2 separate regions of the Homo sapiens genome follow, and region 2 is linked to region 1. The links come from fine-mapping of genetic effects on gene expression. A gene starts in region 1. The other region holds a variant in brackets. All regions are shown on one strand. Distances are between the middles of the regions.

What was found.
Region 2: its variant is fine-mapped to the expression of IGFBP4 in whole blood (TOPMed, PIP above 0.99). The same link has a PIP of 0.9 or more in T cells and blood mononuclear cells.

Annotation. Positions count from the first base shown.
Region 1 is chr17:40,437,942-40,447,053 of GRCh38, reverse strand. It overlaps IGFBP4 (insulin like growth factor binding protein 4), which reads right to left and starts at 3,604. Exons shown (of 4, transcript NM_001552.3): 1 at 2,970-3,604. The coding sequence starts at 3,318. It also overlaps the pseudogene RPL23AP75. RefSeq lists silencers at 3,398-3,447, 3,458-3,507, 3,518-3,707 and an enhancer at 5,754-5,803.
Region 2 is chr17:40,472,290-40,481,401 of GRCh38, reverse strand. TNS4 (tensin 4) reads left to right here. Exons shown (of 13, transcript NM_032865.6): 9 at 634-702; 10 at 1,560-1,728; 11 at 2,754-2,822; 12 at 3,069-3,095; 13 at 3,673-5,568. The coding sequence ends at 3,814. Among named protein-coding and RNA genes, the nearest start is that of TNS4, 25 kb to the left of the region's middle. RefSeq lists a silencer at 1-103 and enhancers at 86-1,285, 8,844-9,112. The variant C/A (reference allele first, on the strand shown) is at 5,068.

The DNA of each region.
Region 1 (9,112 bases):
CTATTCGCGGGCCAGTGGGCCCAAACCTTGGGACCTAAAGCAGACAGTGGCCTACTGACTGTGTAAGGCTAAAAAGATGGGTGGGTAGGGGCTTGGTCGTCTTATCTCACCCACAGACCCTGCAGGGCTGCAGCAGAACTCTAGAGAGTGCCTTTTACATGGTGCCATGTGGCCCAGGTCACAGCAAGGGATTACTTCTATGATGACTAGGAGGTGTGGGAGGGCACGGGCATAGCTTGCTCAGTAGGTACCTCCAGGCTTCCCTCGTCTCTCTCCAGATACCTGCATCCATTGCATGGCTGGAGGCTGGAGGACAAGGCAAGGAGGAAAGGGGGAGGGGCATTACAGACCTTGGCTGTGTCATCCAAAGGGGACCTAAAGCCACCCCATTCCAAGACACCGTTTTTTGTTTTTTTTGTTTATTTGTTTTGTTTTCTTTAGACAGAGTCTCGCTCTGTCACCCAGGCTAAAGCGCAGTGGCACAATCTTGGTTCACTGCAACCTCCACCTCCCGGGTTCAAGTGATTCTCCTGCCTCAGCCTCCCAAGTAGCTGGGACTACAGGCACGCACCACCATGCCCAGCTAATTTTTGTATTTTTAGTAGAGACGAGGTTTCACCATGTTGACCAGGCTGGTCTCAAACTCCTGACCTCAGGTGATTCACCCTCCTCAGCCTCCCAAAATACTGAGATTACAGGTGTGAGCCACTGCACCCGGCCTACTTTTTTTTTTTTTTTTTTTTACGAAATAGAGTCGCCCAGGCTGGAGTGCAATCACGTGATCATAGCTCATTGTAACCTTGAACTTCTCATCTCAGACTCCCAAATACCTGGGACTACAGGCATGAGCCACTGCAGTTGCCTATTTTTTTTTTTTTTTTTTTGTAGAGACGGGGGTCTGGCTATATTGCTCAGGCTGGTCTCGAACTCCTGGCCTCAAGCAATCCTCCCAAAGTGCTGGGATTACAAGCATGAACCTCCACACCCAGCCCCTAGATATTCCTGGAGGCCAGTTTGCATTATATCCAGAGGACAACCACAAAATTCTCATGCCATGCCCTCCCCAAACCCCTAGGGGATCTTATTTTCCTCCACTACAGGATGGAGTATTCCTACCCAACCAGAGGATGAGGTATTCCTACCCAGCCCTTTGAGGGCTCTTCTGTCTTGCATTCAAAGTGCTGAGAGAGGAGGAGGCTACCAGCCATCCTTATCTGGTGCCAGATACCCTCTGGCTGGTGGAGGATGGAGATTCAAAGGGAACGTGACTCTGTTGTACCCCGCGAACCCAAGGGCTCGGCCCTTGCTCCCTCCCAGTCTCAGTACCCCTCCTCTACCATTGCCACTGGCATCTCTGCCCCAAGATTAGCGACTTTCTCCCCCAGGACCCCCCTTCCCAGATATGCTGGGTGCCAGGCTGGCATTTCTCCTAGAATGTTTTCTGCTGACCCATCTCTCCCTACCCAGGGGCAGGAAGGGCAGAGAGGCCCGAGGCCCAGACCCCTGGAGTCCACCTCCTTCCTGTTTTCCCTGCATCCTGCTCTCCTCGGCTGACAAGCTGCAGAGGATTGAGGAAGTGGAGGGTTTGGGTCCCAGGACAGGAAGCTTGGGGCTGGAGTCCCAGCATCCGGACTGCAACAATGGAAGCTTCAAGCACCAGGAAAAGAGACAGAGACAGACAGAGGCACAGGAGAGCAAAACAGGGTCGGAGATGGAATGAGAAACAGAGGCATAGATACAGAAAGACAGACAGAGAGATTCCCAAAGTAACAGGGAAAGACCAACAGTGACAGAGACACAGAGAAACAGCAACAGAAAGAGAGGGAGAGAAGCAGAGCAACTGAAACAGAAACACAGAATAAGGTGGAGAAAGAAACGCACGATGGGCAGAAGACACTGAGGAAAACAGAACTCGAGAGCATGACTAGTGAAACTAGAGGTTGAGAGACAAATCAGGAAGAACAAAAGAGCAAGAGAAAGAAGGAAAAGAGACTGAGAGTCTAAGGAGAAACTGAGAAACAAAAAAAGAAAGTGTAAGAATGAGGTTAGGGCAAGGGCCTTCTCAGAGTCTCTCTCTCTCTCTCTCTCTCTCTCTCTCTCTCTCTCTCTCTCTCTCTCTCTGTCTCTGTGTGTGTGTGTGTGTGTGTGTGTGTGTGTGTGTGTGTGTGTTTCTCTCTCTCTCTCTCTCTCTCTCTGTTTCTCTCCCCTGGCGCCCTGGCCCCTTCTCTATTCCCTATCCCACACACATGAGGCTCCTGCAGCTCTCGGCTAGGAGCCAAGACTTTTCTACCACCTCAAATCCTACCTGCCTGGAGAAAAGAACAGGGGGCCTGTATACCAGGGCAGGCAGAGGTGTCCAGGCCTGGCAGAGGGACCCCTGTCTTCCCACTGCCTCTCAAACAACAAGGTGACCTGGCTCTGGGCTTTGGGGAAGGGCAAGTCTAATGCCCCTCAACGCCAAAGTCCCTCTAATTTGTATGTCCCACTCCACCACTGGACCATGTAAAAAAAAAGTTCAGGCCCTGGCTCCCCAGACCACTGGGATTTCACCCTCGGCCTGGATCAGGAACAGAAAGCTTTCCCCACTCCCTCATCCTCCCCAACACACACCCCACCACCATCCTCCAGTTCTCTGGCCCTAGACAGCTGACTTAACTGGACCTTAATCTGCCACTCCTGCACCAGCAGCCAGGCCTCCCACTGGGACCCCCTTATCAAACAGACAACCCTTGGAGGTTTGAGATGGAGCGATGGGACAGTCTCCCTTGGTGGTGGCAACAGGCTGCTAGGGACTCGGTAGCAGTTTCCTTGATGAGCCTGTCCCATGCCAGTCGGGCCCTGCCACGTACCTGCCTTCTCTTCAACTCATAGGGGATTTTTAAGGGCCTTCCAGGGCGGCTGGAATGGGGAAGAAGCCGCTGGGAAGGGAGCGCACTCAGGAGGGAATTGGGAGGCCAGGGGTACCTTACCAGAGGGCTGCAGGCTTTCCTGGATGGCCTCGATCTCCGCCAGCTCCATGCACACGCCTTGCCCGTGCATCAGTGTGTGCAGGGGCTTCTCCACCCCTCGGGGCGGGTAGCAGCGCAGGCCCGAGCCGCAACGGGGGGTGTACACCCCGCAGGGCATCCCCAAGCCCAGGGCGCAAGTGGCGCAACAGCCGCAGCCCGGCTCTCGCACCAGCTCCTCGCAGCCCACGGGGGGGCGGCAGCGCGCCAGCTTCTCCTCGGAGCAGGGCGGGCAGTGGATGGCTTCGTCGCCCAGGCTCGGCCCGGGCCCGGCGGCCAGCAGCAGGGCGGCCACGAGGCAGAGGGGCAGCATGACCGCCCGAGGACTGGGCGCGGGCGCGGGGCGCTGGGCGCAGGCGGGGAGCGCGGGCGCGCGGGCGAGCGGCGGAGGGCACACGGCGGCAGCGCCTGGCGCTCCTGGAGGACCCGACCCGGAGGGCGCGGGGAGACGGGGCGGCCCGGCGGGCGAACGGGGACGTAGCGGGGGAAGTTAGCAGGCGTGCCGGAGGGGAGCAAGCCTGGCCGCCGAGGCGCTGCGCCGCATCCTCGGCCCGGCCCAGGCAGGCGGCGGGCGGCGAGGGGCAGGGGGCTGAGCGGCTGCCCGGGACCGGCTCCCCCGGACTTTATACCGGTCCCTGGCCACACCCCCAGCGCCTTCCCAGAGGTGGGGGAGCCGGGGCGGGCGAGGGGGAGAGGGAGAGGCGGCCGTTAGGGGGAGGGGGCGCTGTCCTGAGTCGCCGCCGCCGCCGCCGCCGCATCTGAAAGTCCTTTTCTGCCGAAGAAGGAAGCGGCGCAGTTTGGAAGCTGTAGCAGGCGCCCAGAGTGCCTCTGAACCGGAGCCCCGGAGGGGAGGCAAGGGAGAAGGGAAGCCAAGGGGCTGCTGCGGGGCCCCCTTTCCCGACCTCGGAGGAGTCTCGTCCCGCCCCGCCAAGGCGGCCTCAGTCTCCCACCGAGAAAGGGACTTCCTAGCCCGGACTCCCGGCTCTGCGGATCCGGTCTTCCTGGACAGAGCCCTTTCCACCGCACCCCGGTGCTTCCAGCCTCAACCGCTGGAGACCAAGCCTCCTGAGGTGGGGTAAAGCGTACAGGCACAGCTAGGGGCACAGAAAGGCCTGGAGGCCCTAAGACGTTAACAGGCTCTTGCCACTTGCCCCTTGCAACCTCTCCCGCCCCCGCAATCTCCCCAGGGCGCATTTGGGCCCTGGTCCACCCTGCTTCCCCAAGATGGAATCAGCAGAACTCCCGGGGAGGGAGGTGCCGCCGAGCCTCTTCCTCCTTCTTGGATGTTTGCCTCTCAGGCCCATTCAGACCCACTCGTGGAGGGAGGCAGGCCTGGGAGATTGCCACTTGCAATGTGCAAGTTTTGCGTTGAACAACTCCAGTGGGGCACCATTCCTTGTAATCATTGTGTATTTGTAGAGCTGTTGTGATCATTTCCCAGATGGCAGTGAAGGATTTGAGGGGCCTGCAGCAGTGACTCACACCTGTAATGTCAGCACTTTTGGAGGCTGAGGCGGGAGGATCACTTGAGCCCAGGAGTTCAAGACCAGTCTGGGCAACGTAGTGAGACCTTGTCTCTACAAAAAAATTTTAAAATTAGCCAGGTGTGGTGGCGTTCACCTGTGGTCCCAGGTACTCGGGAGCCTGAGGCAAGAGGATCACTTGAGCCCAGGAGTTGGAGGCTGCAGTGAGCTAGAATTGTACCACTGCACACCAGCCTAGGTGAAAGAAGGAAACTCTGTCTAAAAAAGAAAGAAAGAAAGAAGGCCGGGCGCGGTGGCTCACGCCTGTAATCCCAGCACTTTGGGAGGCCGAGGCGGGCAGATCACGAGGTCAGGAAATCGAGACCATCCTGGCTAGCACGGTGAAACCCCCTCTCTACTAAAAATACAAAAAGTTAGCCGGGCGTGGTGGCGGGTGCCTGTAGTCCCAGCTACTAGGGAGGCTGAGGCAGGAGAATGGCATGATCCCGGGAGGTGGAGCTTGCAGTGAGCTGAGATTGCGCCACTGCACTCCAACCTGGGCGACAGAGCGAGACTCCATCTCAAAAAAAAAAAGAAAGAAAGAGAAAAAAGAAGGCCAGGCGTAGTGGCTCATGCCTGTAATCCTAGCACTTTGGGAGGCCAAGGTGGGCAGATCACCTGAGGTCAGGAGTTTGAGACCAGTCTGGCCAACACGGTGAAACCCCATCTCTACTAAAAATACAAAAATTAGCCGGGCGTGGTGGCGCATGCCTGTAATCCCAGCTACTTGGGAGGCTGAGGCAGAAGAATCGCTTGAACCCCAGGAGGAGGAGGTTACAGTGATCCAAGATCATACCACTGCACTCCAGTCCAGGTGACAGAGCAAGACTCTGTCTCAAAAAAAAAAAAAAAAAAGAATTTTAAGGAAGGGATGCTTTTTTAATTCACCCAGTGTTGCTACTTGGGCTAGTGTTGGGCCTGGCTTGACCCTCTGTAAAATCCTATTGATCCCTATTCCCCCAGCCTTGCCCAATCCTGCCCAAATTGAGAAGAGCCCTGGAGTGGCATTTGGAGCAAAGATCCATCTCCTAGGTTCCCTCTCAGGCCCCCGCTAATTCCCACCCATTCTTCCCTACAAAGGCTTCTGCTGTACTGGAGCTGGTTTCAGGTTAAGCGTACCTGTCCAGGAATAATCAGTAACCCACTGTGGATTTTTTTTTTTTTTTGTCTCGGCCTAGAAAGCTGCAGGTCAGCCAAGCTGAAATGCAGTTCAGAGACCCTCTTCCTGCTTCTTCCCCCAGGACAGGGGTCTTTCAGCCTCACGGGGATTGGGCTACCTCCTACTTACTGAGAGATGATTGCAGGGAGATTGGGACTGGCAGCCGGACCTGCAGGACAGACCAAAAAGTTGCAAACTGACGGCACCTACTGGCAACCATCAAGACTGCAGAAGGGCTGGAAAGTGATGGCTGGGGCCAAGATTCTGGGGTTCTCTCCATTCCATCTCATAGATGAAGTGGGGACCCTTCTGCCCCATATGCCTTGGAGAAGGGCAAACAGAACCAGCTTCCTCAAGTCCCTGGGGAAGCCCAGCCTGTGCCTGATTCAGAAAACTGCCCCCAGGCCGGGCATGGTGGCTCACGGCTGTAATTCCAGCACTTAGGGAGGCCAAGGCGGGTGGATCATGAGGTCAGGAGATCGAGACCATCGTGGCTAACACGGGGAAACCTCGTCTCTACTAAAAATAAAAAAAATTAGTCAGGCGTGGTGGCACGTGCCTGTAGTCCCAGCTACTCAGGAGGCTGAGGCAGGAGAATCGCTTGAACCCAGGAGATGGAGGTTGTAGTGAGCCGAGATCACACCACTGCACTCCAGCCTAGGCAACAGAGCAGGATTCAGTCTCAAAAAAAGAAAAAAAGAAAAGAAAACGTTCCCCACCCCATCTCCTTCCTTGATCATCACTGGACCCTGTTCTGCCACCAACTTGCGTGAACTTGGAGTTTGACTGACCTTAGCTGTAACATGGAGGTAGATCATCTCCACCCATCCTACCTCTTGAAGCTCTTGTGAGAGTAAAATGAATGGAGAAGAGTAGTTCTGCTCCCAATGCCAGACATGTGCCCTGTTCAGCAAGCCCAAGAGGAGAAAAGGTGCCAGGACACAGAGGCAGGAGTGCAGGAGAGGCCGGACAAACCCACGCAACATGCCTGGGATGAAGCATGAGTGCAGGTGAGTGTGGGAATCTGCAAAGGTTGCCAGATGAGACAGATTCCCACACCTCAACGCCAGCCCCTCAGTCCATCCTCTGGTGTCCCTCCACCCCTCATCATTGGGTTAATTCCAAGGAGGCAGGAAGATGCACAGGAAAGAGGCCTTCCAAGCACCTCCTACCATTCATGTAACACAGATTTACTGAACGCCTAATATGCACAGGCTTTATGCTACATACCAGGGATGCAGAGATGACCAAGATCACCCCCTGCCCTCAAGGAGCTCACTGCCTAATGAGGGACGATAGTATGTAAATAAAATAAATCTGAGAAGTGTGCAGGTGCCCTGGGAGATGTTCATATGGGGCACAATGGGGATCCAGAGCCACAGGTGGTCAGTTTTACATTCAGGGCATACAGGCTGAAAGTCTTCATTAGAGATGATCCTTTTTCACAAGACGGTGCTGAAGGCAAAGAAAGAATCTCCTGCCCCTCTTAAAGCCGAACTCAAGAAGGCAGTGTTGAAAGGTGTCCACAGCCACAAAAAGAAAGAAGATCCACAGGTCACCCACCTTCCGGCGGCCCAAGACACTGCGACTCCGGAGGCAGCCCAAATATCCTCAGAAGAGCGCCCCCAGGAGAAACAAGCTTGACCACTATGCTATCACTAAGTTTCCACTGACCACTGAGTCTGCCATGAAGAAGATAGAAGACAACAACACACTTGTGTTCATTGTGAATGTTAAAGCCAACAAGCACTAGATCAAACAGGCTGTGAAGAAGCTCTATGACATTGATGTGGCCAAGGTCAACACCCCGATTCAGCCTGATGGAGAGAAGAAGGCATATGTTGGACTGGCTCCTGATTACGATGCTTTGGATGTTGCCAACAAAATTGGGATCGTCTAAACTGAGTCCAGCTGTCCAATTCTAAATATATGTATATCTTTTCACCATAAAAAATAAAAAGAGAGAGATGATCCTTGAGCCAATGGCCTTCCATGCTACAAGAATCAGCACAGTGTGAGTGTCACAATGACCTGGATTCTGACCCCAGCCGTGTCACTGGGCTCACTAGGAAACCTAAAACAAGTTACTTGAGCTCTCTGAGCTTCAGGCCTTATCTGGAAAATGGGACTTTGCAGCAAGAAAGAGAGAGAGACCTATCCAAATTGCCTGGCACATAGTAAGCACCAAGTGTTTGCTCCCTCCTACCCCTCTCCTGCTGGGAACTGTAACTTCTCCACATGGCTGAGACCCCCTGGTGGCAAGACCTGTGTCTCCCCCACTGAACTAGAGGCTCTCAGAAGACTGGGTTTAGTGTCCCCCTTCAGCCTGCAAGTGTCGTGTCTGGGAGAGGCTGTATAAAGAGCATGGGGCCAGGCATGGTGGCTCGCGTCTGTAATCCCAGCACTTTGGGAGGCCAAGGCAGGTGGATCGCTTGAGCGCAGGAGTTCAAGACCAGCCTGGGCAACCTGGCAAAACATTGTCTCTGCAAAAAAAAAATACAAAAACTAGTCAGGCATGGTGGCATGCACCTGTGATCCTAGCTGCTTGGGAGGCTGAGGTAGCAGAATCACTTGAGCCCAGGAAGTCGAGGTTGCAGTCAGCCAAGATAGCTCACTGCACTCCAGCTTGGGCAACAGAGTGAAACCCTGTCTCAAAAAAAAAAAAAAAAAAAAAAATTAGCCAGCTATGGTAGCATGAGCCTATAGTCCTAGCTATTCAGGAGGCTGAAGCAGGAGGGTCCCTTGAGCCCAAGGGTTCAAGGCTGCAGTGAACTATGAGTGCCACTGCACTCCAGCCTGGGTAACAGAGACAGACCTGGTCTCTTAAAAATAAAAAATAAAATTGTTTCTAAAAAGAGCAGGACGGACGCGGTGGCTCACGCCTGTAATCCCAGCACTTTGGGAGGCCGAGGCAGGTGGATCACCTGAGGTCAGGAATTCAAGACCAGACTGACCAACATGGTGAAACCCTGTCTCTCCTAAAAACACAAAAAGTTAGCCGGGCATGGTGGCGTGTGCCTGTAATCCCAGCTACTGGGGAGGCTGAGGCAGGAGAATCACTTGAACCTGGGAGGGGGAGATTGCGGTGAGCCAAGATGGCACCATTGCACTCCAGCCTGGGCTACAGGAGTGAAACTCTGTCTCAAAAAAAAAAAAAAGTTAACACAGTAGTCACAGACTACATGCAGGATAGGGATCTAAGTGCTTCACTCATGAGCACTTCACAGCAACCTCGTGAACTAGGCACTATCACCATCCCGTTTTTAAGACAAGGAAACAGAGGCATGGAGAGGTTTGTAACTTACTCAGAGTCACACAGCAAGTAAGTGGAAGAACAGGGATGTGAACCCAAGCAGTCTGGCTCCAGAGTCTGTACTATTAGCCCCTATGCTTTACTGCCTTTCAAAACAGCTGTCAGAGCACTC
Region 2 (9,112 bases), 34 kb before region 1:
CAGAGCGACAGAGCAAGACTTCATCTAAGAAAGAAAGAAAGAGAGAAAGAGAGAAAGAAGGAAGGAAAGGAAGGAAAAGAAAACGAGGGTTCTAGATGTTACGTAATTTGCCCAAAGGCCCACAGAGTCAGACCTTGAACCCAGATCAGCATGCCCTATCCAGAGCATACAGCCAGGTAGGGGGGCAGCTCAGATGAAATAGATCATCTCAGGGGTGTGCAGGAGAAGCTCGAGAAGGGCTGTTTCTGGAAGGGCATCAAGGCAAGGGAGCCCCAGAGGAGCGATGGTGAGAGCCTCCTCGCTTTCTGCAAAGACAGGTCAGGGGTTGAGACAGGGTCCAAAAGAAGTGAGGAGGTCAGGGGCCTGTGAGGACAAGATCATGGCAGCCATCTAAGAGGTGGGGGGGCGAGGAGGGGATGAAGAGATCAAAAGGGTTGCAAACTAAGCATTTAGGGAGCCCAAAGTGGCCTGTTTGCCTAATTACGGTAATCACACCTGGTTTGAGTCACTTCCTGGAGATGGGGGTGGAGGTGGGAGATCTTCAAAGGGATTCATGAGGCCTGTTCCTGTGAGAGGGGTCCATTCACTCCACCCCCGCCCCTTTGGGGGGCCTGTTTCTTTGCCTTGGCTCAGAACTGGGAGGTGCAGATGGGGCCTCGGACTCTACAGACAGCCCAGCCTCCTGCCAGAAGAAATCTGCGGGTGAGTGGTACAGGAAGGGAGGCGCCAAGCTTGGCTGTGCCCCAAGAGGGCACCTCCCAACCCTGCACACACGCACGCATGCACGCACACACGCACAGGCACACACGTGTTTCCCATCTCAGCTTTGTTTCTGCATCTTTAACAAGGTGCCACACCCGCTCCCCATCACCCCTGTAAAACAGAAGATGAGAGGCCAGCAGGGAAGTGGGGCAGGGTGGGGGGTGGGGGGAGTGGCAGAACTTACAGTCCCTCCTGCACACACATGGGCATGTGCACACGTGCTAGGGTCTCTCTAGGTCTGAGAAACCTGCCCTAGAGGTGGTTCTGGGTCTGGGATCCTCTATGGGGTGTCAGGTCTAAGTCCTGGAGCCTTCACCAGGGGAAAGGTCCCTGACCCACACTCCCAGAGGCCAGCACACATCAGCACTTGTCTCAGTGACTGTTCCTGCTCTATGCCCTGAGCACGAACAATTTCCTTCCCCATTCTTGTCTTCTGTCCCTACCGTTGCCAATGAACCAAGACCTTGAAGATGGAGGTGTGGGGAGGAGAGCAGCCGTTAAGTGTGGACAGAAGGATGTTTTCCTGGGCACCTCTACACACAGGGCAACATCCCCTCCCCTGCCCCATGCTGGAGGGCCAGGGGCCAGGGCGATGCAAAGCCACAGAAGATCCCAAAGCCCTCTGGGGTTGGCCTCAAACTGTGATCACCCACACACCCACTTTCTGTTGGGTGGCGGCTCTAAGAGGAGCTCCACTGGATTCCTGAACAGGAGACTCACCCCCTCCCCTGGCCCTGGGCAGAGGGAGAACCTGGGCCCTGGGTCAGTGGCCCCAGCGCAGTGTCTGCCTCCCACAGGCTGCCACACCCTGTACCTGAGCTCAGTGAGCGTGGAGACCCTGACTGGAGCCCTGGCCGTGCAGAAAGCCATCTCCACCACCTTTGAGAGGGACATCCTCCCCACGCCCACCGTGGTCCACTTCAAAGTCACAGAGCAGGGCATCACTCTGACTGATGTCCAGAGGAAGTAAGGGCCTTCCCTTGCCCTGGGGCTCCGGGGCTGGCGGAGTAGAGCTGGAGGGGATAGCTGAGACAGCTGCAGATCAGGGATGAAGGTCAAGTTCAGGGTTCTGGATGACCCAGCGGGGCCAGTGATGTGCTGAGTGACTCCAGGCAGCTTCCCTGCCTCCTCCAGGCCTCACTCCACTGCCAAAGCCCCTGTTCATCATGACTGATGAAAATGGAGTTAACGGGGGCCGGGCACGGTGGCTCATGCCTGTAATCCCAGCACTTTGGGAGGCCGAGGCGGGCGGATCACCTGAGGTCAGGAGTTCGAGACCAGCCTGGTCAACATGATGAAACCCCGTCTCTACTAAAAATACAAAATTAGCCGGGCATGGTGGCACGCACCTGTAATCCCAGCTACTTGGGAGGCTGAGGCAGGAGAATTGCTTGAACCCAGGAGGCGGAGGTTGTAGTGAGCTGAGAGCACGCCATTGCACTCCAACCTGGGTGACAGAGTGAAACTCCATCTCAAAAAAGGAAGGAAGGAAGGAAGGAAATGGAGTTAACTAGTATTCATGGGTGCCGATTATGCCTGCACCCATTGATGGAACATCTTCCCTCGGCCAGACTGGCTGACCACTGGGACCCAGAGAGGAATGAGATCGTTCCTTCCCCAGGCTCGGATCTCACAGTCTAACAGGAGCCTGATCCAGGGCTGAGCACTTCACAGGGAGAAACAAGAGATGACCAAGATGTAATTCGTGTCCTCAAAAAGTTAGTGGCCAAAAAAAATTAAATGGCGTGGTAGGGGTGTGATAGAAAACCCCAGAGTGTAAGACAGAGGCAGACAAGCCCCATGAGAGGAGAGAGGCAGGAGCGGGGCGCCAGGGCCCCCCAGTGGGAAAGGCCATAGCGGTCTTCAAGGTCTAACCCAGAGACTTCTTGGAGGACAGGGCACCTGAGCTTGGGGGGAACGAGAGATGCTGGAGGCAGGATGACACTGGGACAGGCTGTCATCGCTTCCCTTCTCTCCCCGCCTCCTCCTAGGGTGTTTTTCCGGCGCCATTACCCACTCACCACCCTCCGCTTCTGTGGTATGGACCCTGAGCAACGGAAGTAAGTTCAAGGCTGGGCCAAACTAAGAAGGCTGTCCAGGGCCCCGCTGCCCACCAAGGCGTCCTGCCGACTCTGGGCCTGGGATCCCAGAGGGAGCCTGTGAACCTCAAGGGGTCAGGGTGACAGAATGAGGGTAGGGTGGGGCATGGTGGGGTGGGGACGCAGCTGGCCAGTCCTGCTGCTCCTCCAGGGTCCTGTGGCATGGAGCGAAGCCTCATTACTCGGTATCATGTTCTTTTCCTACAGGTGGCAGAAGTACTGCAAACCCTCCTGGTAAGGCCTTCCTGTCTCAGGGCCCCAAACCCAACATGGGGAGGGAACTGCAGAAGGAAAGAGGCACCATTCTGACTTTAATAGTCCAAAGTGTTGATGAGGGCACAGGCCCTGGTCCTCAGGGAGCTCCCATCTGATGGGAAAGACTTTGACTGCCCTCAGAGCCTCTGGGCTGTTGGGGGTGACATGAGCCTGGGAGCCCTCAATCTTCTGCAAGAGGCACAGGCTCTAACTTCAGGGAGCCTCAAGCTATTGGAATGTCCCAGTCTGATGATCAAGATGCATCCTTGCCCTCAGGGAGCTTCCACTCTAATGGGGAATGCACAGGTCCTGTCCTCAAGGAGCCCTCACTCAAAACAAAGGAAACCCAGAGCTTGAACTCAGAAATCTCCCAGTCTGACGGGAGAGGCATCTCCTTCCCCAGGGAGCCCCACCATAAGGAGGTGCTGGAGTCAATTGGCTAAGGGAGGGGCAGGGAGGAATGAGATGCAGGCTGAGGGCCCCCCACCACCCCATTCCCACCAGCCTGATGCCTCCCTGGGTCCCACCCCTCACTCAGACTGCCCTCCCCCACCAGGATCTTTGGGTTTGTGGCCAAGAGCCAGACAGAGCCTCAGGAGAACGTATGCCACCTCTTTGCGGAGTATGACATGGTCCAGCCAGCCTCGCAGGTCATCGGCCTGGTGACTGCTCTGCTGCAGGACGCAGAAAGGATGTAGGGGAGAGACTGCCTGTGCACCTAACCAACACCTCCAGGGGCTCGCTAAGGAGCCCCCCTCCACCCCCTGAATGGGTGTGGCTTGTGGCCATATTGACAGACCAATCTATGGGACTAGGGGGATTGGCATCAAGTTGACACCCTTGAACCTGCTATGGCCTTCAGCAGTCACCATCATCCAGACCCCCCGGGCCTCAGTTTCCTCAATCATAGAAGAAGACCAATAGACAAGATCAGCTGTTCTTAGATGCTGGTGGGCATTTGAACATGCTCCTCCATGATTCTGAAGCATGCACACCTCTGAAGACCCCTGCATGAAAATAACCTCCAAGGACCCTCTGACCCCATCGACCTGGGCCCTGCCCACACAACAGTCTGAGCAAGAGACCTGCAGCCCCTGTTTCGTGGCAGACAGCAGGTGCCTGGCGGTGACCCACGGGGCTCCTGGCTTGCAGCTGGTGATGGTCAAGAACTGACTACAAAACAGGAATGGATAGACTCTATTTCCTTCCATATCTGTTCCTCTGTTCCTTTTCCCACTTTCTGGGTGGCTTTTTGGGTCCACCCAGCCAGGATGCTGCAGGCCAAGCTGGGTGTGGTATTTAGGGCAGCTCAGCAGGGGGAACTTGTCCCCATGGTCAGAGGAGACCCAGCTGTCCTGCACCCCCTTGCAGATGAGTATCACCCCATCTTTTCTTTCCACTTGGTTTTTATTTTTATTTTTTTTTGAGACAGAGTCTCACTGTCACCCAGGCTGAACTGCAGTGGTGTGATCTAGGCTCACTGCAACCTCCACCTCCCAGGTTCAAGCAATTATCCTGCCTCAGGCTCCCAAGTAGCTGGGATTACAGGCATGTGCAACTCACCCAGCTAATTTTGTATTTTTAGTAGAGACAGGGTTTCACCATGTTGGCCAGGCTGGTCTTGAACTCCTGACCGCAGGTAATCCACCTGCTTCGGCCTCCCAAAGTGCTGGGATTACAGGCGCAAGCCACCCAGCCCAGCTTCTTTCCATTCCTTGATAGGCGAGTATTCCAAAGCTGGTATCGTAGCTGCCCTAATGTTGCATATTAGGCGGCGGGGGCAGAGATAAGGGCCATCTCTCTGTGATTCTGCCTCAGCTCCTGTCTTGCTGAGCCCTCCCCCAACCCACGCTCCAACACACACACACACACACACACACACACACACACACACACACACACACACACACACACACGCCCCTCTACTGCTATGTGGCTTCAACCAGCCTCA[C/A]AGCCACACGGGGGAAGCAGAGAGTCAAGAATGCAAAGAGGCCGCTTCCCTAAGAGGCTTGGAGGAGCTGGGCTCTATCCCACACCCACCCCCACCCCACCCCCACCCAGCCTCCAGAAGCTGGAACCATTTCTCCCGCAGGCCTGAGTTCCTAAGGAAACCACCCTACCGGGGTGGAAGGGAGGGTCAGGGAAGAAACCCACTCTTGCTCTACGAGGAGCAAGTGCCTGCCCCCTCCCAGCAGCCAGCCCTGCCAAAGTTGCATTATCTTTGGCCAAGGCTGGGCCTGACGGTTATGATTTCAGCCCTGGGCCTGCAGGAGAGGCTGAGACCAGCCCACCCAGCCAGTGGTCGAGCACTGCCCCGCCGCCAAAGTCTGCAGAATGTGAGATGAGGTTCTCAAGGTCACAGGCCCCAGTCCCAGCCTGGGGGCTGGCAGAGGCCCCCATATACTCTGCTACAGCTCCTATCATGAAAAATAAAATGTTTGTCTTTGCAAAACAGTAAGTTCTGAGGCAGTCAGGGCTGTGCCCTTGGAAATGGAGACCTGAAGAGAGAAGGGGGACTGACTTGGGAGGGCGTGGCTGTGTCTTAGGGGAGACCAGGTGTGCCACACTCCCTCCCGCACCCCTGGCCACGGCGCTACAGGCTCAGCAGGCTTCCACTTCGTAAACCATTGCTTAAACCACTCTGTGTCCCCCACATGCCCAACACGCTTGTTCTTCTTTCTTCATCGCCCCTTTCCTGCCACTCTGCCAGGGAAACAAAAGGATTGTGATTTCCCGGGGCCCAAAGTGAGTGTGTACGGTGCCCCTGACGGATTCCAAGGTCTCACTCAGCCCCCACTGAGAGACAAGGAGAGGCGGGCAAAACATGAACCCCTCAAGAGGAGTCCGGAAGAGTCCCCGAACCCAGATGGCCCCAGAGCTGCCAGCTCCGCCCTGAAGAGCTGGACTGTGGTCGGGTGTGGTGGCTCGCACCTGTAATCCCAGCACTTTGGGAGGCCAAAGCGGGAGGATGGATTGAACCTAGGAGTTCGAGACCAGCCTGGGCAACATAGGGAGACCCTGTCTCTACAAAAAAAATACAAAAAGTTAGCCAGACGTGGTGGCACATACCTGTAGCCCCAGCTACTTGGGAGGCTGCGGTGAGAAGATCCCTTGAGCCTGGGGGGTCAAGGCTGCAGTGAGCTGTGGTTGTGCCACTGTACTCCAGCCTGAGTGACAGAGTGAGACCCTGTCTCAAAAAAAAAAAAAGAAAAGAAAAAGAACTGGACCATGGCCTCTTGATCCCACCCTGGGCCTGGGGAGTTCTACCCCCAGCTCCTTCCAGTGGCAGTCCTCCCCTAAGCCAGTCCCAGAGGAATGCCTCCCTCCCAGACCTGCTCCAGACTTCGCTGCAACTAGGGAGCCAAGGCTGGCATGCCCTGAGAAGGCCTCAGCAAGCGATGCAAGAGAGGCTATGGCACTTCTGTTCTCCTGAAAAGTTTTGGGAATGGGAGAGCGCCTCCTTCTCTCTGGGCTGAGCTATGTGACCCAGTGGCAGGGGCCTTGAACCACCGCTGGTTAGCCTCTGCCTCCCTTTCCACTGCCCCAGTGCAGTTCCAGATGGAGACTCCTCTCAGTCTCCTCTCAGTCTCCTGCTGTGGCCCCGCTTGGCCCAGCATGGAACAGAGTTCGTGGAAGGCGATCATTTCTGCTGCATTTGCCACAGCTCATGTTTCCCCTAAGAAGGTTTAGCGGAGAACTTGACTTAAGACTGCTGAGGGCAAAGCAGCCAGCCCGGCAGGGGTGGGAGGGCTGGACAGCAGAGGGGAGGCAGGATAACCACTGAGCCAGGAACCAGGAGGGGAGGAGCCATCTTATCCACCCAAGGACACCAGAGGAGTGTTCTCTCCAGGAGGCTCCAGGCCTTATAGCCCTGGGTCTTAACCCCTGCCGCAGCCCTCGCTCCAGTGTCTCTCTCCCCAGTCTTTTCATCCCTCTCCATCCCTTTCTTGATCTCCGTACACACTCATACCACCCACCCTCCCTCCCTCTCTTCTCCCACTTCCCCTCTCTCCTTTCTCACCATCTCTCCTCATTATGCCTTCTCTACTCGATCACCCCTTTGCAGAGAAACCTTTCCTCCTTCTTGCTCTTTTCCAGTTGAATTTCCTCGCCCCGTTGTCCCAGGTGGCTGGACATGCAGCAGAAGGGAACTGGGGAGACTCTCGCACTGCCAATCATTTCTCAAAACTCAGGTTCCAGTTTGAGACCCGCCTGGCCAACATGGTGAAACCCCATCTCTACAAAAAATACAAAAATTAGCCGGGCAAGGTAGCGCACCTGTAGTCCCAGGTACTCGGGAGACTGAGGCATGAGAATCCCTTGAAACTGGGAGGCGGAAGTTGCAGTGAGCTGTGATCGTGCCACTGCACTCCAGCCTGGTTGACAGAGCAACATGCTATCTCTAAAACAAACAAACAAACAAAAACTCAGGTTCCCACACCCTCTAAACCCTGCCTGCTCTCAGGCTACAGAGACCTCTCCAGGAGGCTGAAGTGCCCTTACCCCGACCATCTGACCAGCCACCGCCCCATGCCCGTGCCCCACCGAGGGCGGAGGCTGCTCACTGCTCTGTTTTATCTCTGGCCTCTGATCCTGCATTCTTGTGCCAGGGCTTAGACCCAGGGCAAGGTCTTAGACCCAGGGCAGGGGTAGGGTTAAAGGCTTTCAACCCAGGGGCCAGTGCCTTAATTCATGCAACAAATGTTTTCTGGCTGTGTGCTTTATTCATGTGAACCAGGAAAACAGAAAAATATGACAGTGTTTCCAACAGAGGTTTATAAGTGCTATGCAGGGCTGGTGGAAAGAGTAGAAACTGAGAAAGATAAACTTTACCCACTTGAAGGGAAGGAGGGCAATGTTACCAAGAAGGTAACATTTGAGTTGGGTCTTCAAGGATGAATAGGAGTTCGGCATGCAAAGAGAGTTAGAAACCAACTTTTAGGAGTGGGGAGGGGCTCTCATGTGCTACATACAATCTGAGGCACATTATATAAGCCTAATCCCATTTTACAGATTAGAAAACTGGGGCTCAGAGGGTTAACTTGCCCACATTCACCTAACTGTAAATGGCAGAGAAACAGGATTTCAAGTCCATGCCCATCCTATTGCCCCAGCATTCACAGAAAGCAGATGGAGACATTCGTGTGTGAAGCACACAGGTATGAAAAGATGTACCAAGTTTGGTGTGGCTCAAGTACATGGTACCTAAGGGAGTAGGTGAGAGAGAAAGCAGAAGAAAAAGACAGCAACAGGACCCTCAGGACCCTTGGGTGCCAGCTGAGAATGTCTGGAGATTGAATACTTGCTGAATGAAGGAGATGGGACTCAGGCCTGCTGTGTATGATTTTGTGGGCTATGCAGTGCATGGTCATACATGGCACCCTGCTTGGGCTTTATCCCATAGGTAATGAGGATGAGATAGGAAGCGGGACTGCACTCCAGAGGCAGGGCTTGGACACAGGTCCAAACTGAGGACTAGCTAAAACAGGGATGGGGTGGGAGGAGCTTTCCATAAGACACACCCACCAGTGTGACATGTCAGTTTACCATTGCCGTGGCAACACCCAGAAATTACCACCCCTTTCCATGGCAGCAACAACCTAATGACCCAGAAGTTATCACCCTTTTTCTACAAATCTCTGCATAATCTGCCCCTTAATTTGCATGTGTTTAAAAGTGGGTGCAAATATGAGTGTGGAAGCTACTGAGCTGCAGCTCTCAGCACACTGGGGTAGCCCTGCTCTGCAGGAGCAGTCACAGGGCTGTGACACTGCCACCTCTAGAAAGCTGCTTTCTTCTATCACCGCTTGCCCTTGAATTATTCCCTGAATGAAGCCAAGAACCCTCCCAGGCTAAGCCCCAATTTGGGGCTCGCCTGCCCTGCATCAGGGAGACATGTCAGCTGAGGAGTAATTGACCAGATTTCTGCTTTAGAAATATGGCAGTGGAGGCAGGAGATGGCATCTGAGGCCCAGGCTGGGGAGAAGGGTGCTGGG